Homo sapiens: one gene and its partners. The protein of the gene in region 7 purifies or fractionates together with the protein of the main gene of each other region. This does not show direct contact. Each region holds a gene or a part of one and is shown on either strand. Other genes may lie near its edges.

What was found.
Region 1: the proteins of MFAP5 (region 7) and AHR purify together in Homo sapiens (affinity purification with mass spectrometry; one large-scale study listed by BioGRID and IntAct). This does not show direct contact.
Region 2: the proteins of MFAP5 (region 7) and EMILIN3 purify together in Homo sapiens (affinity purification with mass spectrometry; one large-scale study listed by BioGRID and IntAct). This does not show direct contact.
Region 3: the proteins of MFAP5 (region 7) and FBN2 purify together in Homo sapiens (affinity purification with mass spectrometry; one large-scale study listed by BioGRID and IntAct). This does not show direct contact.
Region 4: the proteins of MFAP5 (region 7) and EMILIN2 purify together in Homo sapiens (affinity purification with mass spectrometry; one large-scale study listed by BioGRID and IntAct). This does not show direct contact.
Region 5: the proteins of MFAP5 (region 7) and LOXL2 purify together in Homo sapiens (affinity purification with mass spectrometry; one large-scale study listed by BioGRID and IntAct). This does not show direct contact.
Region 6: the proteins of MFAP5 (region 7) and JAG2 purify together in Homo sapiens (affinity purification with mass spectrometry; one large-scale study listed by BioGRID and IntAct). This does not show direct contact.

Annotation. Positions count from the first base shown.
Region 1 is NC_000007.14:17,333,152-17,336,651, reverse strand, and holds part of AHR (aryl hydrocarbon receptor), read right to left. Parts: intron 2,741-3,500; coding exon 2,538-2,740; intron 1,766-2,537; coding exon 1,656-1,765; intron 1,008-1,655; coding exon 866-1,007; intron 1-865. UniProt on the Homo sapiens protein: Ligand-activated transcription factor that enables cells to adapt to changing conditions by sensing compounds from the environment, diet, microbiome and cellular metabolism, and which plays important roles in development, immunity and cancer.
Region 2 is NC_000020.11:41,361,641-41,363,818, forward strand, and holds part of EMILIN3 (EMILIN-3 precursor), read right to left. Parts: coding exon 1,998-2,178; intron 1,415-1,997; coding exon 1-1,414.
Region 3 is NC_000005.10:128,332,246-128,335,745, forward strand, and holds part of FBN2 (fibrillin-2 precursor), read right to left. Parts: intron 3,333-3,500; coding exon 3,210-3,332; intron 3,051-3,209; coding exon 2,925-3,050; intron 2,600-2,924; coding exon 2,474-2,599; intron 790-2,473; coding exon 667-789; intron 1-666.
Region 4 is NC_000018.10:2,892,006-2,895,505, forward strand, and holds part of EMILIN2 (EMILIN-2 precursor), read left to right. Parts: coding exon 1-481; intron 482-3,500. UniProt on the Homo sapiens protein: May be responsible for anchoring smooth muscle cells to elastic fibers, and may be involved not only in the formation of the elastic fiber, but also in the processes that regulate vessel assembly. Has cell adhesive capacity.
Region 5 is NC_000008.11:23,299,759-23,303,120, forward strand, and holds part of LOXL2 (lysyl oxidase homolog 2 precursor), read right to left. Parts: intron 2,406-3,362; coding exon 2,269-2,405; intron 1-2,268. UniProt on the Homo sapiens protein: Mediates the post-translational oxidative deamination of lysine residues on target proteins leading to the formation of deaminated lysine (allysine).
Region 6 is NC_000014.9:105,158,777-105,162,276, forward strand, and holds part of JAG2 (protein jagged-2 isoform a precursor), read right to left. Parts: intron 1-3,500. UniProt on the Homo sapiens protein: Putative Notch ligand involved in the mediation of Notch signaling. Involved in limb development.
Region 7 is NC_000012.12:8,656,327-8,659,826, forward strand, and holds part of MFAP5 (microfibrillar-associated protein 5 isoform a precursor), read right to left. Parts: intron 1-3,500. UniProt on the Homo sapiens protein: May play a role in hematopoiesis. In the cardiovascular system, could regulate growth factors or participate in cell signaling in maintaining large vessel integrity. Component of the elastin-associated microfibrils.

The DNA of each region.
Region 1 (3,500 bases), on a different chromosome or scaffold from region 7:
TCAGTATTAAAAAGATGTTAATTCTCCCCAAATGATCTACAGTTTCAAGGTAATTGCACTCAAAATCTCAACAGATTTTCAGACAACTGCTTTCTAAAATGTATATGGAATTATAGAGGGCAAAGAAGAACCAAGGCAATCTTGAAGGAGAACAAAAAAGGCAAAACAAACAAAATGACACACTCTGACATAGAAATATATAATAAAGATAGAATAACTAAGACAGTGTAATGCTAGACAAAATAGACAACTGCACTAATGGAGCTATTAATAGAACAACACAATCCAGACAGAGAACCACAGACAAAATCCCCTGATCAAAATACAGCGCAGCCGGGAAACAATGACCTTCTCGGTAAATCATCTTTTCAATGTTACTGGTCAATTGGGTATACGTATAATGGCTGGGGGGAATCAATCCTTACCTCAAGCTACAGACAAAAATCAATTCTCCAGAGTGGGAGGAAACATTTGCAATACAAATATTTGATAAAGGACTCATCTGCAGCATGTGTAAGAAACTCTTAAAATCACTGCTGGGTTTAGAGAATATATTCTAAATAAAGCATTGTTATATTTTTCTTCTTTTTTACCAATGACACTAGCTTTTCATGTGTCTTTCATATGCCCAAGATAAAACCCTAGAGTTTTATTATTCTTTCTATAGCTCTGCACATGTAGCTCTCAATCAAGTTCGTCAATTCTATCTTCTCAATGTCTCTCACCTGTGCTCTTCTTTCTAGATGAATTAAACTTTTCAATTTTTATTTACAGACTAAAGTCTGCTTGAATTATTTTTATGCTTTCACATAAGAGGACTTATGAAAACAAAACTGTTAAAACAGGAAACATTATTTGTGCTTACGTTAGTGGTCTCTGAGTTACAATGATATAATCTGGTCTTCCATTTTTATAAAGCAGGCGTGCATTAGACTGGACCCAAGTCCATCGGTTGTTTTTTGTAAGAAGCCGGAAAACTATCATGCCACTTTCTCCAGTCTTAATCACTAAAATAAAATTAAAAAATTAAATTATCAAACCCCCAAATCAATATAGTAAAGATTATTCCTAAAACAAAGCTCTTGTGACATAGTTCTGGATGTATTTCCTTTATCCCCAAAGACAATAAATTTTAAACAAAAAATAATAAAAGGCATGGAAATAGTTTTTCAGAGTTGTTTTAAATTTATTATTTTAAATGTTAAAGGGAAGATTATGTACCAAACAATTCTAGTAACACAGGAAAGTATAGAGAGAACATAAGTTGGGGAAAAAATTATTTTCATTTTAAATAGGGAATATTTTCCTACAGCCTAATACTTTATAATTTTAAACTAGAATTATTAACACTATTATTGTTACAATATTAACATAGATTTATGAATTGATAACGATGTAATTAAAAAATTCCCAAGCAAAACTTCATGGGCCAAAATGGTCATTTTTTAATAACTAAACAACAATATTTCTACATGGCAGGTGTAGACAAGTTAATGAACAAAGAGTGTAACCCTGGTTAATCATAATGATATGTTACTAAGTAGAAGTTTATCCATATACTTTACTTAAACACTTTACATTACGTAAGAATTTGAAACATGTACAACAGTATATGCCGTTTTCTTCTGACATGTTCATAAGGAACTACAACTTACTTCGGATATGGGACTCGGCACAATAAAGCATATCAGCTGCATGAATAAACTGATAACCTGAGCCTCTCGTGCACAGCTCTGCTTCAGTATATCCTAAAACAATTCTTCCTCTGTTTAAAATAAAAAAAGGTAAAATAAGAATGGATTAAGATTTAACATAAATGAAATAACCAAGATAAATTCATTGGTTTTACGCTAGTTTCTGCAATATGTTTTAGTTCACATTTAGAATTTCACATAAGTAGATGTGAAATTAAACACATCCATGTAAACTGATCTTCTTTGCTTATGATTGCAAATTTCAGTTTCAGCCTATTTTCTTTTCCTGAATAAATCCATGGAAATTAGTATGCTAAAAATGAATCTAATAGAGCAGATGTATGGGTAACAGAACATCTTTAATAAAAATCTGGAATGTTTTTATAATCTATTTTTAGGGAAGAAGGTTTTTCTAATTACCTCTCTGCATTCCCACATTAGAAAGGAGAAAAGCACTGATATGTTTGATATGATATAAATGTTTAATATCAGACTCCTGCTCACAATTTTCTGAAAGTTACTAAAACTTCTGGGGCTAGAAATCAAATAACATTTGTGCCATTTAAAAATGTAAAACAAACCAACATAAATGTCATCAGAAGAATAAACCTTACTAATATATAAGAACATCATCATTTGAGACAAGTATTGCAAAAATTAAAAAGATGATTTGTGAGCCTGATTAAATTATTTTACTGTAAAAGGCTACACTGGAAGAATGTACGATAATAGCCAATCTAATAATAAACAATATTACATACACTGTATGTTTTACATGCTAAGAGAGACTTACTGAAACATAATGTACATCCAATAAAATAAAAGTGAAAAAGTCTCACTTACTTGGCATCACAACCAATAGGTGTGAAGTCTAGTTTGTGTTTGGTTCTAAAGATAAAATTTTTGGTCCGGATTTCAAGTATGGATGGTGGCTGAAGTGGAGTAGCTATCGCAAACAAAGCCAACTGAGGTGGAAGTATTGATCCATCTTTCCCTTTCTTTTTCTGTCCATGAAGATACTTTAACTTCCCTTGGAAATTCATTGCCTTAAAAAAGCAACAACAACAAAAAAGTTCATTAAAATTAACAATATAAAATAGTGCCTTTTTAAAAGGCTCCATTATGGCTGCCTCTAGGGTTCTTGATAATTCCATAAATATTCCTGAAGCTGAGAACTGTTAGTTTCCTTCACTCCTCTCTCCATGGGACGCCCATTAAATCTATCTCAAAGAGTAATATGAAAAATATTCTAAAGGGATAAGTGAACCACTCCTTGTTCCTAATGGTCATAACATGAAAACCTATATCATTTTCCAAGCTTGCCATTACCCTATCATTTTCACCTCACACAGCTCCTTGCACACCAGGCAATCAATATATCCTGAATGGTGATAAAGTCCTAAAGTAAACATTCATTTTCAAGCATACATGAACTATATCACAGCTCATAGCATACTGCATAGTTCATAATCTTTTCTATAGAGGCAAAATATAATTTTATTAAGACACTAAAATGAATCATCATGAAAACATATAAAGAATGCAGAGCCCTACTGAGTAAAGATATGGAAGAAATTTAGAAGACAGGGAAAACAAAGGCACTTAAACATGAACATGATATATTTAATTGCTTAAAACAATATCAACCAGTCCAAGGGATGGTTCTGACATCAAAATAATAGCAGCACAAGGAGGAAAAGGCCCTCCTGCACACAGATATTCCACCTCAGACATACACTCACATGTCATTTAACAAAAGGGGCATGTTCTGTGAAATGTGTCCTTAGGCAATTTCATTATCCTGTG
Region 2 (2,178 bases), on a different chromosome or scaffold from region 7:
CTGGAGCCTTGGCTGCTGACCTGCTCCTGGATGGCCTGGACTTCGGCTTCCACCTTGCGTTCCCGCTCATCCAGGGACGTGTTGGCAGCCAAGAAGGCATCAGAGTACTGGCTGACAGAGTCACTGAGGCCTGTGAGCGACTTGCTCACTGAGTTCAGATTGACCTTGAGCAGAGTGATCTCGCCTTGAAGTGAGCTGCCCGTCCCTTCTGCCAGCTGTCCCTGGACCTCGGCCACAGTGCCATTGAGCTGCTGGAGCAGTGCTGCGTGGCTGGCCACCTGGCGTAGGAGGGCCTCGCTCCGGCTCTGCCAGGCCTTCACCTCTGCCACGAGGCTGTCCAGGATGGCTGAGGTGGTGCTCGGGGTGCACGAAGTCTCCAGTGAGACCAACCGTTGCTCTAGCACAGCCAGCTCTGTCTGTACAAGGGGCCGAGCTGACCTGCCCGGAGAGGCGCTGTCATGGCTTAGCTCCCCAGCCAATGTTGCTAGGCGCTCCTCGAGGCTCTGCACGCGCTCTTCCAGCATGGTCCCAAAGCCGCCCACTCCCCACCCCCCCATGTCCAACCTCAGACAGCATCCCCTTGCTCCACCCTCTGTCCCATTGAGCGTCTCCAGACCCTCAAGCAGCCCGTCCACACCTCCCTCGAGCATGGCAGCAGAGAGCCTCGTAAGCTCATCCCCGGCCGGGGCACCGGGGCCCCTTTGGGTCTCGGTGACTGCCTGCAGGGCCCTCTCAAGGCCATCCATACGGGCATTGATCAAGGCTAGTTGCCCACAGCAGCTGCCCCTGCCAGACACGCTCAGGCCCTGCAGCTGGCTGCCCAGCTGTGACAGCTCCTGGCGCAGGGCCAGCTCCCGGCCATCAAGGCTCTGGTGCAGCCTCCGGCTGGCGGCCTGACCCTCCTCACATTGCCGCCGTACCTCCTGCACCCGCAGGTCACACTCACTCTGGACGCCTTGCAGCTTCTGCTCAAAGCCATCCAGCAGGCTCCCCCAGAGTCGGTGCAGCCGTCGGTCCACGTACTCCTCCAGCAGGGCCAGGGAGGTGAGCGGGGATGGTGGGGCTTCCCGCAGCCGCTGCAGGTGGGCCTCATGGCCAAGTGCCAGCCCATGCACCTTGTCTAGAAGCTGCACCTTGGTCTGAAGAGTGTTGCTCACCTCTGTCACCTTGCTTAGGATCTCGTCTAAGGGAGGTGTTAGTGGCCCTCTGGCTCTGTCTCCTGGGCCCACAAGCCCCTCAGGGATGACCCCAAAGCCCACAGGGACAGCAGGAGCCCTGGGGCCACCAGTCATCCTGTTGGGATCCTCGTGGCTAGCCACCAGGCCACTGAGGGTACCATATGTTTGAGCCAGGCGCTGGACATCACCCTCCAGGCGTTCCAGCCGCTCACCAAACAGCCCTGGGCCTTTCCTTCCTGGGAAAGAGAAGAGAGCCCCAGGGGCATCACTGGCCTCACCCTCTCAGCTTGTCACAATGCCAGGCCACCCAAGAGACTTTCTGTTCTTTTTTTTTTTTTTTGAGACAGAGTCTTGCTCAGTCGCCCAGGCTGGAGTGCAGTGGTGTGCTCTTGGCTCACTGCAAGCTCCGCCTTCCGGGTTCATGCCATTCTCCTGCCTCAGCCTCCCAAGCAGCTGGGACTACAGGCACCCACCACCACGCCCGGCTATTTTTTTTCTATCTTTAGTAGAGATGGGGTTTCACGATGTTAGCCAGGATGGTCTCGATCTCCTAACCTCGTGATCCACCCGCCTCGGCCTCCCAAAGTGCTGGGATTACAGGCATGAGCCACCGCGCCCAGCCCAGACTTTCTGTTCTAAGCCTACCTTCTCACTGGGCATAACTCCCTCAGCTTTATGGTGGGGTGAAAGTGGGGCTTGGGGCTTGCCCCTCCCCATCCATGCCGGAGCTCAGCCAGCCTGGGATCAGTCCCCTCCCTGCCCCTGCCACTGAGCCCAAGAAACCCAATCACCTTGGAGGGTCTCCTTGGGCAGACTCACCATGAGGGCTGGGGGCTGCTCTGCTGTAGGAAGGGGGCCTGGGGCCTGGGTCCAGCTGCCCTGAAGGAATCTGAGGCTCAGGCTCCAGCTGGGGTGAGGCAGCCCCATGGTCCGTGAGGTGCTCAGGGCAGCGTTTCCCAGTGAAGCCGGGACAGCAACGCCAGGCGAGGTCTGTCACTGT
Region 3 (3,500 bases), on a different chromosome or scaffold from region 7:
ATTGACCTAGAAATTCTTACTAGTTGGAAAAATGCTTTATTGTAAGGCATGTGAAACACTAAGCATATTACACAAAACTGTGAATGACACTCAGGGTATATTCTAGTCCCTTCCCTCTCAGATATAAAAGACTTCTTAGACTCTGGCTCAAGAACCATAAAACTTGGAGAATTTGCCTATTTTTTTTCTTCAAATAAGACCTCTTGGAATGCAAGAAAGCATTTACAATTTCCTGTAAGAAGAATTCTATTTTCTAATAAGATGGTGGTATTGATGACTTACTAAAAAATTAGGTTATCTGAAAAAACCTTTTCATTGCTCTCCATTTATTCCACTGGATTTTAAATCTCACTGATTACTTCTTTGAAAAGATTGGAAGAACATACTAGTCATTTTTCATCATACAGCTGTGTTTGGATCACCAGCTGCATATCAATTTTTACTGAACAAAAACACATTAAAAAACAGGTGCCAAGGCATACTGTTGAAATTTTGATAATTTATATTAAGGGTAAAGGACACCCTTAGGCAGGAATTATCTTGCAACTAAGATAACCTTTTTATAAAGGAATTAATAAAAGTGAAGAGCATGATTCTACAACCATGCAAAAAAGAGCCTTTAAAAATTTGTGCCTTAGCAAAGGATATTTACATTTGCAAACTCACCAATACACTTGATGCCGTTTCCAATCCAGCCTTCTCTGCAGCTACACTTGAAGCTTCCTGGGATATTCAGACATGAGGCATGCATGTCGCAGTTATGAGCACCAATTTCACACTCATCCACATCTGATAAACCATAATTCATAAGAAGAAAATCAAAATACAAACTAATTAATTCTACTTCCAAGTATATTTTTGTATAGGTAACATTTTAAAGTAAAGATGCAACCGTATGGAGAAAAGAGTAGCCTAACTAACTTTTATTTTTAATTTTTGTAGGCTCCAAGAGGACTTGGAAAATTCATGATCCTAATAAAACAAGTTCTTCCCTAGAAACAACTGTCAGCCACTTTCCAGTAGAAGAGAGAGAGACACAGCAGTGTTGCTCCCCGGCAGGTATGTGTATTATCCTGGGGCCTTCTTCCCTGCCCAGATTCAGACACAACACCATAAAGAGGACATTCGATTACAGATCAAGAGAAATCTTATTTCCAATAATAGATGGTGCTATTCCTTCCTATTGATATTTATTACATATTTTTCATGAAGATAAGAATCTAACTTTTTAAAAAAAGTAATAGTTTATTCTCTTTAAAATTACATGATCATTTGTCATTTAAAAAATCAATATAAATATTTTACAGAATTTAAAAAAAACTATTCATTTAGGTGTATATTTTTATTTCTTCTACTTATTTGAGATTATAGAAAAATATTCACTGGGAATGTTATCTGGAAAGTAGCCAGATGCTTTCGCCAGTGTGTGTGTGTGCGTGTGTGTGTGTGTGTATTTGTGTGTCTGTATACACACACACATATCCCTATATATGTATGTATAACCTATGTAGATTTGGTTCTCCAAAGCTTTCTTGACTATAAATAGTAATGTGTTCTATCTAGTTCAACGATTACATATTATAGATGCTGAAATCACACACACACACACACACACACACACACACACACACTACTGGCTTCACATCAACCCTGTCAGTGGTGAACATGCAAAGAACACCTTCTTTTATAATCTGCCCCTTACTGGAGGGGTCAGCTTAAGGGCTGGGTTGGACTCTTAAGTCTTCCACCACCTGCCTTGAAAAAATATCACACATAAGTCTTAAATTGTGCACTGAGGAATACGTGATCCAAAACCTTGACCCCGGCACATCCTAGCCCCACCTGCATGCAAAAGGCTAAAACTAGTTAGTAGTAGTAGTAGAGAAAGGGAACAAAAGACAAAGTGAGCAAAGTGAGCAAAGAAGGAAAGTGAAGAGAGGAAAAAGAGAAAGGCAATTTGGGCACAGAGAAGAGAAGACAAAAGCAAACAGAAGAGCAAACAAGAAAGGAAAAGATGGGAGAAAGGAAGAAAGGGAAAGAGTCTCAATGAAACTTGATTAATTTTTACTAGTTTAAAAGAAGTGCAGAGGTAAATGGCAACCGGGATCCTCGGGTCTTTTGGTGCTCTTTGTACATGAATGTCTTCCAAGCGGGCAGCAGTCATACTCAGAAAGTGACTGATGCTGCATGAACGACCATAAGTGGTCAGGGCCATGGGAACCAGACTGTACTCCTACTCACTCACTCTGTCACAGCCCACAGCCAGCCCCACGGTGGGTGGCTCAGACAGCGTGCTACCACAGAGACCAGCCAAATCCATCACACATCCTATAGGTCACACACTCATCACACACACAGTCACAGTCTGGTGGCAGGTAACCGCTCTAAGAGATGCCAGAGAACAAATGATGTTGAAAGTTGGCCTTTGACATCTGAGAAGTTGAAATACAGAGAACACAAGCTTGAAACCTACCTGTACATCCTGTGGTCCCCTTCTTCACTGAGTAACCCAGCTGACAGTGGCAAATGAAGGATCCCTTTGTGTTCTCACATTCCCCAAACATGCAGATATTTGAATTTAGGTCACATTCATTGACATCTAGAAAATTTATTTTCAATATCTTAGTATGTGCTCATCACAGTAATTTAAAAGCTATCTTCTACACTGAATAGCATAATACTGAAATACACAGGCAAGATCTAAAATATAATCCATCCGCAAATCATCGTGTTATAGATAAATATACAACCTGCCTTTAGACATTTTTAAAAGTAATTCTTCCTGAGATTTTACAGTTCTAGTAAAATGATTTGAATTTTTAAAATAACAACAGAAAAAGCCTTCCTTTTATCACGCTTGTGTGTGCATGTGGGTGTGTGTGCATGTGTGTGTATAAATGTTTATCCTTTCTTATGATACCCACCAATGCATGTTTTCATGTCCATGGAAGCCATGAAGCCATCATAGCAGAGGCAGCGATACTCTCCAGGAATGTTGGTACACTGGCCGCCATCACAGATATCAGGATTGTTTTCACATTCATCAATGTCTGATGATACAAAATTAGCATCAAATGAAAATAAAAATGTCGTTCATCAATCTCAAATGTTTTTGTTTTCTATCTGGTTCCACTTGGTAATATCTGGAGCCATATTTTCAAGAAAAAATTAGTTAGATGTACAAAACCTGTGTGTTTTCCTTTCTATACCTGCACACGATCTCCCATCTGGCATCAGGGCATAACCCTCACTGCAGCTGCATTCGTAGCTTCCCTCTGAATTTGTGCACTGGGTGTCACAGCCTCCGTTCATTATCATACATTCATCAATATCTGTGAAAACAGCATTGCAACCACATTGTCAGGTCTGCTTCCTTAAAAGGAGTTTTCTTCTTTTTAAACAGATAATGCTAATGTGGCTTTGAATTTTTCTCCCCACTATGTGTGTTGATTGAACATTATCTTTCTTAGTTCTTTCACCTTCATTTTAGGCAGCATTCC
Region 4 (3,500 bases), on a different chromosome or scaffold from region 7:
AAGGAAATGAGCAATTGTAGAGCAGGTGAAAACGCTGGCATGGGTAGGTTCACTAAGGTGGGTGAGCAAGAAAGGACAGTGGACACCCTGCCGTCCCCCCAGCACCCCGTGGCTCATTGCTGCAGTCAGCTGGAGGAGAGGTGGCAGAGGTTGCAGAGCCAGGTCATCTCGGAGCTGGATGCTTGTAAGGAATGCACGCAGGGGGTCCAGAGGGAGGTCTCCATGGTGGAGGGCAGGGTGTCTCATATGGAGAAAACTTGCAGCAAGCTGGACTCTATCTCAGGAAATCTTCAGAGGATCAAGGAGGGGCTCAACAAGCATGTCAGCAGCCTGTGGAACTGTGTCAGGCAGATGAACGGAACGCTCAGGTCGCATTCCAGAGACATTTCTGGCCTGAAGAATTCAGTCCAGCAGTTCTACAGCCACGTCTTCCAGATTTCTACTGATTTGCAAGATCTGGTCAAATTTCAGCCATCAGCAAGTAAGTTGAATATTACAATTCTATTTCTTGTATTTCTTTGCAGCACGCAACAACATTTTAAAAATAATTTTTTGTTCATTTTTGATATTGTTGAAACTTCATGAGGTAAAAATGTGACAGTATTATGCTAGATTTTGGACAGTTCACGGAATGAACTAAATGCCATCAGTCCTACCCAAATGTGGTTCATAGATTGGTGCCTGAATTATCTGGTGCTGAGTAGCAATAAGATAAATATATATTCTCAGTGTTAATATTTAGGAACTTCTAAAATAATTTGACAGACTGGTTGCAGTGGCTCATGCCTGTAATCCCAGCACTCTGGGAGTCAAAGGAGGGTGGATCACCTGAGGTCAGGCATTCGAGATCAACCTGGCCAACATGGCGAAAATCCGTCCCTACTAAAAATACAAAAATTAGCTGGGTGTGGTGGCACGCGCCTGTAGTCCCAGCTAGTCGGGAGGCTGAGGTGGGAGAATTGCTTGAACCTGGGAGGCAGAGGTTAAGGTGAGCCGAGATTGCATCACTGCACTCCAGCCTGGGCAACAGAGTGAGGCTCCATCTCAAATAAATAAACAAACAACATTGCAGTATTTAAGCACATGATCTACGTAATTTACAAAAATATCAGTTCACAACACATTGAAAATAAAAAAGGAAAACTGGTTCTTCCCACAGATGGATAGCCAAATATTATCTGTAGAATCAGGCTGGTGAGCTCAGAGTTGGGGTCAGATTTTTGGCATAACAGCTTGGGGCAGTGGGTGTTGTCCTCTCTTCTACCTAGGGAGTCTCCTACGTACCTCTCTTCAAGCATCACTTTTTATCTGTGTCGTTATCATCTTCAGGGCTTAGCTGATGGCAGATAGGATGCTGTCATATTTGTTTCCAGACACAGGACCGTGGATGAGAGCAGTTTAGGGACAGGAAGTATCTAAAGCTCCATAGTGCCTGCATCCAGGAAGCTCAGCAGTAGTGCTGAGAGCAATGCTGGCTACACCTTAGGCACTCAACAAATGTTTGTTGAATGAATGAATGTGAATGAATGAATAATATATGTAATAAGATTTTTTTGTTACTTGTGGGTGCTAAACGCAGCCTTCTCAAAGGACAGAGCTTCTCTTGTACCTGGGTTTGTACTCTGAGACAGCCTCCGACATAAGCTAGCCCTCTCTAGTCGGAGTCTGGGCGTGAAAGGAAGGAAGAGGGAGCTCGCGTTTTTGAACACTTTCTATGTACAGCACTGGCTTGGTCACTTCAGGGGGACTGAATCCTATCATGGCCTCACAGAAAGGCTGTTTTCCAACAGGGAAAATGTGCCCAAAGTCATGTGGCTGTTCAGTGGGGGAGCCAGGATGGAAACCAGGCCAGGCTGCGTCCAAGAATTGTTTTCTTGCAGTCCAGCCATGATGACTGTGTGTCTCCCAGAACTGAGTGCAGACTTACTTGGTCCATGGGGACTTGTTGAGGGGCCTGCTTTGTGCTAGAAGGAACCTATTCCTGACCTCCCCCTCCCTGTTTTCTTTTCTCCCATCCTTGCCTTTGGGACTTTTACCTCCCTGACCTGGTTCCGCTCTGGGTGACACAGGCCCTTGCACAAGGAACTGAGATTTCATGGCCTCTGTGAACCTTGGGATTTTATGATCAAGTCCCAGATGAGACATAAAACCCAAGGCAGCGTAGGCTAGAACGTGGGAAGCAGGCGAGCTCTGGCTTGGTCAGGGAGAGCCAGGGCCAGGTCCTGGCAGCTCAGGAGGGTGGAGAGGGTCCGAGGTAGGTGGGAAAATGCCCTGGATGTCCCCAGAGCACTGTGCTTATCTTGCAGATGACGAGTCACCTAGGCCCAGGAGGACCAGGAATCTGGCCGCCACCCGAGTGTCCAGCCCACTGCACCTCACTATTTATAACCCAGCCCTTCCCCCACTCCAGGGCCACTCAGCTCCTCTATCTCTGGAATGTTGAGTAGAGGTCACAAGACCATGTATGTGTTCATAGAATGATTGTCCCTTGTGGTGACAACGCTGTCTGGTCTGTGTCTTACGATAACAGGTTGAATCAGATATTTCCAGTTGATTTGGAACTCCCTGGTGGCGTGGGAAGCTGTGTTAACATTTTCGCATTTGTCTGTTGCAGTAGGAGTTGGGGGGTGAATTCTTTTAAAAGAGAATGTGCCATACAAAACATTATCCCTTTGGACTGAACTCATTGTGGTGAGTGTAGACTGCATGGAGTTTTGAGAATTTCATTGATTGGAAAAGAGCCAGAAATAAACAAGCAGAGCCTCCTCTGCCCTTGTCTAGCATCCAGGTCTAGGAGACCTGGAACCTGAGTATCAGAGGTGCATGGGAGAATCTGGAGCTAAGGTCACAATGAAAGTGACATGTCAATCAGTTAAAAGTCAACAGAATGTTTATTGAGTGCCTACGATGTGCAAGGCTCTTGGGGGACCTGGAGATAAGTAGGCATAATCCTTATTCTAAAGCATTTGCAATCACAGTGGGAAAGAGACTCACAGGTCTGCAGAGAGATGAATGAGATTGTTTGTGGCATAGCAGTTTATCCCTTTAGTTCATAAGCTCTTACTGAGCCCCTATTATGTGGTAGGTAATGGCTGTGTGGGGGAGTATGTGGATAAAAGTCTGATGGGGAAACAAGCAGACAGATGGTCACAGGAATGGGGTGTGGTGTGCATGAGCCACCTTGAGTGTTCAGAGAAGCACCCACAGTGGAAGTCAGGGAGGGATTCTCAGGAGAGAGCCCTGAGCTGAGCCCTCAGTGTAGGTATTTACCGAGCAGAGTACAGAGGCTGATGGGGTGAGGAATAAGGTGAGATGAGAGAAGCTTCCAGGAGGAGGTGTTACTGGATCTGATTGAGGGATGGGTGGGATTCAGAAAGCAGGAGGGGAGGACATTGTGGATTAGCTATTTATTGCTTTATAACAACCCATTCCAAATCTTGCTGGCTTAAAACAACAAAGATGTATTAGTTTCCATTATTCTGTAGGTCAGGAACCCCGGC
Region 5 (3,362 bases), on a different chromosome or scaffold from region 7:
GGGGCGGGTACAGGCTGCTCGTTCAGGAACATTCTCTAAATTTGGGGCCCCAGAAGGGCCTGGACACGAACCTTTAGCAGGCCGCTGGGCTTGCCCAAAGAGGTGCTGTGGGAAGCCAAGGCCAGCCTGGCAGCCGGCCCTCTGCTCTGGCCCAGCGGGGCTGTTCTGGGGGCCTGCACCTGGCTCAGCTGTGTCCCGCTGGGGCCCTGTGCCTTTAGCTAAGGAGGTACATGCCCTGCTCCGGGGCGGCTTGAGTTTTTTCTTTTCCACCCAACCATTCTAGCTGCCCCCTCGTTCCTGGCCCACACATGGCATGGGGCAAACACAGCTCCACATGCCAAGGCCTCCAGCTGTGCAGGCCTAGGCAGCTCCTTGGCCGCCCAGGCGTCTCGACAGTGCAGCCGTGAGGGCGGCTGGATGCAGCAAGGGCTCGTGTTGGGGACACGAGGGCCAGTGTTACGTGTGGGGTGGAGGCGGGGCTGGAAATGTGTGTCCCCCACTGTTTCACCCCACTCATCTACTGCAGACCGACATCTCACGAGGGCCTGCGGGAAGTGGCTTTAGGTTTCTGTATGTCTGTGAATCTAGGAAATGATGAGAAAGCGGATAAAGCGGGGCCACCAGGAGCCAGGAGGCCCCTTCACCCCTGCCTCTGAGCTCTGCACAGGTCCCTCTGCGTGGACGGTCACTTCCTCCTCGCCCAGCTCCCTCCTCCTGTCCTTCACAGCACCACTGATGTCTGAAGTGAAGACCACCTCTTGTGTCCCGTGAGTCCCCAGGCCGGTGCTTGTGGCACCTAAAGAAGCTCCATGTCTATCTTAAGGGGAATGTTCTTTTTGATTAATCAGAGGTATTAACATGCCCCTAATGAGTCCATTTGCTAATTGTATTGTTTAGGGGTTGAGAAAACAAAATAAAGAGTTGATATGTCTGGGGTTGGGTGGCCGTGAAATGAGGGTAATGATGATGCCCCTTCCTTGGGAGATTAAATCAAACAATGCATTCCCCAGGCTTAGGCAATTGATAGTAGTTATTAAGTGGATGGCACTGGCCAGAATACAGGGAGATACACACTCACCCAGCAAAATGATAGCAAACCTCAAACAGAAACCACCAGGCACTGTATACGTGCACATGGCCACGGCTATTCATCTTTTAAAATAAATAACTCTCTGGTTAGGCCTCTCCAAGTCTGTGGTTCTGGGCTTGTGGGTGGAAAAGTGCTTGGCTGTCTGCTTTCCAGCCTCTGAAACTGCCCAGGAATTCTCTGAAAGCCCCTCTGTGGTGACTTCTCTGAAGGTGTTGTTTCTTCAGAGGACTGTCTGTAGGTGGGGACCGTGGGCCAGGCCCTGGGCTGGCTGAATGCCCCCTCAGGAAAGCTTTCAAGGTGGAATGACACATTTCTGGTCATCCACTTTGCTAGCCAACAGGGCAAGCTGGAAAACGAGATGGGTGAGGACGTAGGAGAGAGTGAGAGGGTGAGATAAAGCTTCTGCAGGCTACGTGTACCCGTGCACTGGGAGAGACACTAGGGACACAATGCCCCTTTTCTCCCCCAGTTAGAGCCCTGGCCAGAACATGCCGCTGTTTTCAGGAAGGAGGGAAGCCAAGGCCCCCTTGTTCCTCCTCAGGGCTGGCCTTCCACCCAGAGTATGTGGAAACAAATCTCGGCAACCCCTCTGACAAAGAAGTCACCTGGCCAGGCTGTGTCTCGTGTTCAGTATTTTATTCTTATAGATTCACTTTGCATTGAGAATGGCCCCTTCTGCAGATCCTCCTCTATGAGGCAGATATTTCCGGAAGAGCTAAGTCACAGATATTTGCAAGTGACTGGCTCTTTATGAGTTTGCTTTCAGTCTTGAAAGCACAGACCAAGGCAGCCTAGGGCACTAGGAGAAATGGGGATGGTGGAGACAAGAGCTCCATAGGAGACAAGAGGTGTGGGTTGCCTGAGCATGTATGGAATAAACTGGCCGGAGGAGCAAATCTAGCCTGCTGATGAGTTTTGATTTGCATGCACCAGGTGTTAACTCAATCAAATGTGAATGCCTGTGGTGTCTCTGGTCCTGTGCACGCCCTATTTCTCAGGCCCCCATGCCTGATATCTTTGGGTTAACTGATGGACCGTGATGGCCTCTGGGGGTAGCACCTTGCCCTTTAGACAGCCTGACTTCCATGCCCCTGTGTGGACACCAATGGGAAGGAGCCTGTGGAGGTGGCCTCCCCTCCTCCCCCTGCAGGGCTGGAACCCCTTCCCACCCACCTCACCTGGAACAGGTAGTCTCCAGGGGGCACGTCAGTGATGTCAACCCACTGGCAGTCGATGTCATGGCGGTACATGTCCCAGCAGCCCATGGTGATGCCCTGATCGCCGAAGTTGGCACACTCGTAATTCTTCTGGATGTCTGCGGGCAGGGTAGAGGAGAGCTCATCACCAGGGAACCATGGCCCCACTGCCGCACCCTCTTCCTGCTTCCAAGGCCCCTACCGCTGCTTCATCTGGGCTCGGCATCCCACCCCACTGTGTGGGCTGCTCATCTGTTCTCATTTCAGTAGAACCCCCCACTCAATTCCCTACCCACATCCTGCCTCTTCTCTCAGGCCAGGCTCAAGTTCCCCTTCCTCCATGAAGCCCTCCCTGACCACTCTGATCCACCCTGGCCTTTCTGTGACATCCTCAGCCTGGGGATAACTGCGTGTGTGTGGACCGAGGAAATCTCTGGTGCCTGTGGTTTAGCAAAACGTGGGGGGTCATACTGTCTGTCTCCTCTGGAGGATCGGCAATTAGAGTGTAGGCCCATGTCTCTCTGACACTTACATGTTATCTGCACATGGTAAGAGGTCAACACCTGTCTGCTGTGTGATTTCACGGCAAGTCAGTGGCGGGCCGCTTCAATGAATAACAAATTAAACACGCATTTACTGAGAAGCTGCCATGCCTGGACACTGCTGTAAACAGTGGGTCTAGCAAGAAGAACTGACATGTCTCCCCATGAAGAGCCCCCAGGGCTGCAGGTGCACTAACAGGTGATCACAGGGCAGGTGTGGTGACCTACCAGAAGTGTGAGCAGAGTGCCACACCTGCCGGGACGGGGGGGCGCTTCAGAGGAGGGCATTTGAGATATAATTGAAGGGTGACACCTGGTGTGGTAGGGACACTTGGCATTGGGACACCAGAAAAAAGGTTGGTGGCAGCCAGAGTGGGAGGGGCATACGCATCAGGGTCTAGGCTGCTAAGCCCAGATGGAGCAGGGTCCCCAGAGTCTGGATCTTGTCCAGGAGGCCCTGTGGACCGACCAGTGCCTGTCAGCACAGCTCTGGGGAATCCGGGTGCCCTTGGAACCAGGTCATGCCCATGCCCC
Region 6 (3,500 bases), on a different chromosome or scaffold from region 7:
TGAGTCACCTCAGGGCCTGCTGGCTTCCCACCCCGGGGGGATGCTGCGTTGGGCAGTGTCCAGGCAGGCCAGGCTCACTCCATCCCTCAGCACACCCCATCCAACCAGCCCCAAGGCCTGGCTAAGCTGGGGAAAACCACACTTCCCCAGCAAGGCCCAACCCCACGCCTGCCAGCCCTTCCCTGGTCCTCACCCGCCGCCCACCCCACGCACGTCCCAGTGCCTCGGCCTCATCCAGCTAAGGACAGGCCTGGCCTCCCAAGATGTCTCAGAAGACTGCACTCCCACGTCCAGCCCCTCCCCTAACCAACGTGCTACCAGCCACACCCAGCCCAGCCTCCAGGACCCCCACCCAGTCCCCCGCCCCACACCTCCGACTGTCCCTCAAATACAGACAACTAGGGCCCAACATGACTGCTGACCCTGGGCCTCACTCACAGCTGGGCAACCCCGGCCCCGCCCCCGAGCCCCTGCCTGCAGAACACCCGGGGACGGCCCGAGGAGGCTCACCCAGGTAGGAGCACAGGATGGAAGTGGGGGGCCATCCCCAACCCGCTCCTAGAACCCTCCCTAGCCACGTCGAGCTGACAACAGACCCTCAATCCCACCTCTTAAGCTCCCCTTAAACCCGTTTTCCCACATCCGCCATGGCCCCGCCAGGCCACGGGGCCCAGTCCCCGCCCATCTCCAGGGCTCCCTGAGGTCACCAGGGCCCGCAAACCTCTGCCTACAGGCGCCAGACAATCCCCAGAGTTCCATCCACATGCCTCCCAAGGCTCCGTCCACACCCCCCGCCGAGCTCTGTTTACACCCCCCAGAGCTCCATCCACACCCCCAAAGAACTCAATCCACATCCCCCAACGGGGTTCCATCCACACCCCCCAACAGGCTCCATCACCTCCCCAGGGCTCCATCCACACCCCGCAACATGCTCCATCCACACCCCCCCAGAGCTCCATCCACACCCCCCCAGGGCTCCATCCACACCCCCCCAGAGTTCCATCCACACACCCCAACATGCTCCGTCCACACCCCCCCCCAGAGCTCTGTCCACACCCCCCAACATGCTCCATCCACACCCCCCAGGGCTCCATCCATACCCCCCAGAGCTCCATCCACACCCCCCGAGTTCCATCCACACCCCCCAACATGCTCCATCCACACACCCCAACATGCTCCATCCACACCCCCCAACAGGGCTCCGTCCACACCCCCCCCAGAGCTCTGTCCACCCCCCCCAACATGCTCCATCCACACCCCCCCAGGGCTCCATCCATACCCCCCCAGAGCTCCATCCACACCCCCCAACATGCTCCATCCATACCCCCCCAGGGCTCCATCCACACCCCCCAGGACTCTGTCCACACCACCCCCAGGACTGTGTCCACACCCCCCAAGGGCTCTGTCCACAAACCACCCCCGTCAGCTCCATCCACACCCCCCAGGGCTCCATCCACACCCCCACCAGGACTCTGTCCACGCCCTCTCAGCTCAGAGCACCCTTGGGGTTCCCAAGGCTCCTGCCCACCCCCACCCACCCACCCCAGCCTATCAACCCATCTGCCTGGAGCACCACCCTCGCAGCTGCACCTGGCCAAGCCCTTCCCCACCCCCGGTAACACCTGGAGCACCCAGCCGCTTCCCAGGCGTCTGGCATTTGGCTCCTTCCTTCGTTCCTTCCTTCCTTCGTTCACATCAAGTGTACAGCAGGCATGCCTCTGCCACCAAGGACGGCAACCTATAGCCAGCGGGGCTCGGGGAAAGCAACAGGGGGCAGGGGCTGTTGTTCCAATAAGGCCAGGCCAACGGGTCACAGTGGCTCACGCCTGTAATCCCAACACTTTAAGAGGCTGAGGCAGGCAGATCACCTGAGGTCAGGAGTTCGAGACTAGTCTGGTCAACACGGTTAATCCTCATCTCTACTAAAAATATAAAAATTAGCCAGCCATGGTGGCAGGTGTCTGTAGTCCCAGCTACTCTGGAGGCTGAGGCAGGAGAATCACCTGAACCCAGGAGGCCGAGGTTGCAGCGAGCCGAGATCGCACCATTGCACTCCAGCCTGGGCAACGAGGGCAAAACTCCATCTCAAAAAAAAAAAAAAAAGGCCAGGCCAGGCTTTGAACAGGTGGCATTGAGATTGAGGCTGCAGGGCATGAGGAAGTGAAGGAGCTGCATGGCAGAGCCCACAAGAAGGCCCAGGGGCTGAGAACGCATAGCCCACGGGGACAGTGGGGTCATACCACAGATCCAGACCCCACCACGGACTTCCTTCCTGAGGCTAAGCGAAGTGGGTGACTGTTGCGGGTCTGAGTGAGGTCTGTTCGGGTGTTGGGGGTCCGAGTGAGGTCTGTTGGGGGTCTGAGTGAGGTCTGTTGGGGGTCTGAGTGAGGTCTGTTGTTGGGGGTCTGAGTGAGGTCTGTTGTTGGGGGTCTGAGTGAGGTCTGTTGTTGGGGGTCTGAGTGAGGACTGGGACCCACCAGGCTTTAACAGTCACTGTAGCCGCTGGACAGGAACCAGCAGGACCAGGAAGCAGCAATAGTGAGGTCAGAGGATGGGGCCAGCATGGGTCTGAGAGCAGCTCTGGCCACGGGGCAGGCAGAGAAAAGCCAGGCCACCCGGTCTCCCGGCACAGCCACACCTGGGCTTCAGGGCCAGCAGGGAGTTCCTCTCGACTCCCAGGAAACCTCATGCCAGCCACTCAGGTAAGATTACTGCCACCTTCGCCTGAGCCCAGGGCTCCGGTTACCTGCTCCCGCAGGGACGTGTGCCTGCCCGCCCGCCGAGAGGGCCTCACCGCCCGCCAGCTGGGGTCCCTACACCTGGATGGCAGGAAGTCATCCAGAGTGAACCTGAGCTGGCTGACGGGGCGGTACCTGCCTCACCCCACCTGCCAGCTCTCCCAGCTCCCCTTCTTCCCTAGGGGCCAGCCTCCAGGACTTATTTGCCTCTTCTGTGAATAACAACCTCTCACCCCCGTCCTTCCAGGACTCAGTTGCCTCCTCTGCGAATAGCAACCTCTCATCCCTGTCCTTCCAGGACTCAGTTGCCTCCTCTGCGAATAGCAACCTCTCACCCCTGTCCTTCCAGGACTCAGTTGCCTCCTCTGCGAATAGCAACCTCTCACCCCTGTCCTTCCTGCCTGGCGGGCCACGATCTGGGACAGGGTTTTGTCAACACCAAACCCCTAGAACACAGGAGGGACTATAGGGCCTGGATTGGGCGGGGGTTGGCGGGCATGTTGCCCTTCTAGGAACGGGGCTGGGACATGTGGGGATGTGGGCCTGGCGCTGGCAGGGGCAATAGGCGATGTGTGGGCTGGGGGTCTGGGGACAGGTGAGAGACCCATCACCTGCCCAGGTTCCCCGGCAAGCAGGGAGAGGAACCCAGGCCCTCCCTCAAGGCCAGCCTAGCAGGGCTATGCCCCTGCCCAGTCTCTGGAGGCCAAGGGGGAAGGGCTTCACCCCTGCAGGCCCAGCTAAGCCTCTCCCTACAAGCCCGGC
Region 7 (3,500 bases):
CGTGAGCCACCGCGCCCAGCCCATAATTCTGATATAATTGGGTATGAATTTGCTGATATGCTTAGGAGTGTTCATAAAAGGTAGTATTGATTTTTTTTTTTTTTTAAGAGTCTCGCTCTGTCACCCAGGCTGAAGTGAGTGGCCAGTCTCGGCTCACTGCAACCTCCGCCTCTTGGGTTCAAGCAATTTTCGTACCTCAGCTTCCCAAGTAGCTGGGATTACAGGCGCATACCACCATGCCTGGCTAATATATATATATATATATACACACACACACACACACATATATATACACACATACACACACACACACACACACACACATATATATATATATATATATTTTTTTTTTTTGAGACAGAGTCTGGCTCTGTCTGTCGCCCAGGCTGGAATACAGCAGCGCACGATCTCGGCTCACTGCAACCTCCGCCTCCCGGGTTCAAGCAATTCTCTGCCTCAGCCTCCAGAGTAGCTGGGATTACAGGCGCCCGCCACCACACCCAGCTAATTTCTGTATTTTTAGTAGAGATGGGGTTTCACCATATTGGCCAGGCTGGTCTTGAACTCCTGACCTCAGGTGATCTGCCCGCCTAGGCCTCCCAGTGTGCTAGGATTACAGGTGTGAGCCACTGCACCTGGCCTGTTTGCTAAATATTTAAATGTTTGCTAAGAGAGTAAATTTCAGGTGCTCTTATTATACACATACAAAAAAGGAAACTAATGAGGATATGGATATGTGAATTTGCTTGACTGTAGTAACCATTTCACTTTATACACATCTATCAAAATGTCATGGTGGATACTGTAAACACATACAATATAATTTATATGTAAATTAAAAAATAAAAGTAAATGTTAATGCTGTTTTGTTATTTTGCTTTTTAAAGTAGAGACCACTGGTTTTAGGAAGTGCTATTATTTACAGTTTCCTGTAAATACAAAATTAGCCTGGCGTGGTGGTGCACGCCTGTAATCCCAGCTACTCTGGAGGCTGAGGCAGGAGAATCGCTTGAACCCAGGAGGCAGAGGTGGCAGTGAGCTGAGATCGCGCCATTGCACTCCAGCCTGGGTGATAAGAGAGAAACCCTATCTCAAAAAATAAGAATAAAATAATAGTAATAACAATAAAATAAATATTAAGCAAACATTCCATCAGCAATTACCCTTCAATGTAAATAGCTTATATTCATAATCCATTCTACCCACTAGGGGTCAGCAAATTCACATAGTTTGCTTTGACTTTTTTTTTTTTTTTTTTTTTGAGACGGAGTCTCGCCCTATCGCCCAGGCTGGAGTGCAGTGGCGGCATGATCTCGGCTCACTGCAACCTCCGCCTCCCAGGTTCAAGTGATTCTCCTGTCTCAGCCTCCTGAGTGGCTGGGACACAGGCATGTGCCACCATGCCCGACTAGTTTTTGTATTTTTAGTAGAGACAGGGTTTCACCATGTTGGCCAGGCTGGTCTTGAGCTCCTGACCTCAGGTGATCCAACCACCTTGGCCTCCCGAAGTGCTGGGATTACAGGCATAAGCCACCATGCCCGGCCTGACTTCTTTTTTTAACTTCAGATTCTATTAATAAATGTCAAATGTAAATCTGATGGGAACAAATATTTTTATAAAGCATATCAGAGTTATGGATAATTATAAAAAAGGTGAAATACAAATAAAGCATTTCATAGGAATTTCCCTTGCTTACCTCATCCTGTTTTCTAAATTCCAGATAGAAATTCATCAGGTTTGGCTGGGCTTCATGGTTCATGCCTGTAATCCCAGCATTTTGGGAGGCCAAGGCATGCGTATCACTTGAGGTCAGGAGTTTGAGACCAGTCTGGCCAACATGGTAAAATCCCATCTCTACTAAAAATACAAAAATTAGCTGGGCATGGGTGGTGCATGCCTGTAGTCCCAATTACTCAGGAGGCTGAGGCAGGAGAATGAATTGAACTCAGGAGGCGGAGGTTGCAGTGAGCTGAGATCTTGCCACTGCACTCCAGCCTGGGACAGAGTGAGACTCTGCCAAAAAAAAAATTCATCAGGCTTGACAAAAAAGCCTCTTAACCTTTCACACTCATTATGGGCTTTCTTCTTTCAGAACACTTTTTTTTTTAAGTAGGATGTCATTGATTGGAAGAACAATCTTTTAACAAAAGGAATCCAAGTCTGTTCCAATCCCACAGGATATTTGAAAAACCACTAACCTGAATCATTCCAGAGACTGCAGGAGAGGAGTGGAGCCTCTCCCGGGTGTAGCCCAATCCTTCCTGGTTCCCTTTCTCTAGAGGCCTAGCTACATTCCAGTCCAGCCACTCACAGAAACAGGAGCAAAGCAATGGGGGAACAGAGGGCTTGAGAATGTATCCTAGCTGTCTCTGGGATTTCAGGGCAGAGTACTGCTTTTCTGCATATACCTCAGTTTAACCAACTGTTCCAAGAGCTATCACCATATAAATGCTTTATCTAGTATTCATGAAGTTCTCTCTGAAAAAAAAAATTAACGTATTTTCTTTTCCTTTTCTTTTTTTGAGAGAGTCTCACTCTGTTGCCCAGGCTGCAGTACAGTGGTGCCATCATAGCTCCTTTGCAGCTTCGAACTCCTGGGCTCAAGCGATCCTTTCACCTCAGCCTTCTGAGTAGCTAGGACAACCAGCAAACCACCACACCTGGCTTTTTTTTTTTTTTTTTTAAGAGATAGGGTCTCAGGCTGGCAGCAGTGGCTCACACCTGTAATCCCAGCACTTTGGGAGGCCGAGGCCTGCAGATCATCTGAGGTCAGGAGTTTGCGACCAGCCTGACTAACACGGTGAAACCCTGTCTCTACTAAATACAAAAAATTAGCCAGTTGTGGTGGCGCATGCCTATAATCCAAGCTACTTAGGAGGCTGAGACAGGAGAATCACTTGTACTTGGGAGATGGAGGTTGCAGTGAGCCGAGATCGCGCAATTGTACTACAGCCTGGGTAACAAGAGCGAAACTCTGTCTCGAAAAAAAAAAAAAATAAAAGGGTCTCACTATATTGCCCAGGCTGATCTCAAACTCATGGCCTCAAGTGATCATCCCACCTCAACCTCCCAAAGTGCTTGGTATTACAGGCATGAGCCACCACACCAGGCAAGACAGTTCATCATACCTTATGATATGTCTGCGAGAAAAGCATCTAAAGTCTTAACACAGGACTGGTTCCTAATCAGCCCAGAAAAATGAATTCCGATTTTCAGTTTTGCTGGTACTAAAATCTCGGGAGGCCTTTCCCCTAGTCTGAAGTCTAGTCACATTCCTGCCCTTTTTTCCTAGATTCAGATTTAGATTCAGAAACTCGGGGATTCGGGTATTTTTACCAACAACAGAAAAAAAATTTTTGTATTTTTATCTTCTGTACCAGGACCCACTGCAAGAAAAATATACTGTACCCTGGTATATACATATGGAAAACTAAGAGAAGTTTTATTAAAGTTGTATGAAATAATACTTTACTCTTGCAAAACACATGCAATGCATCCC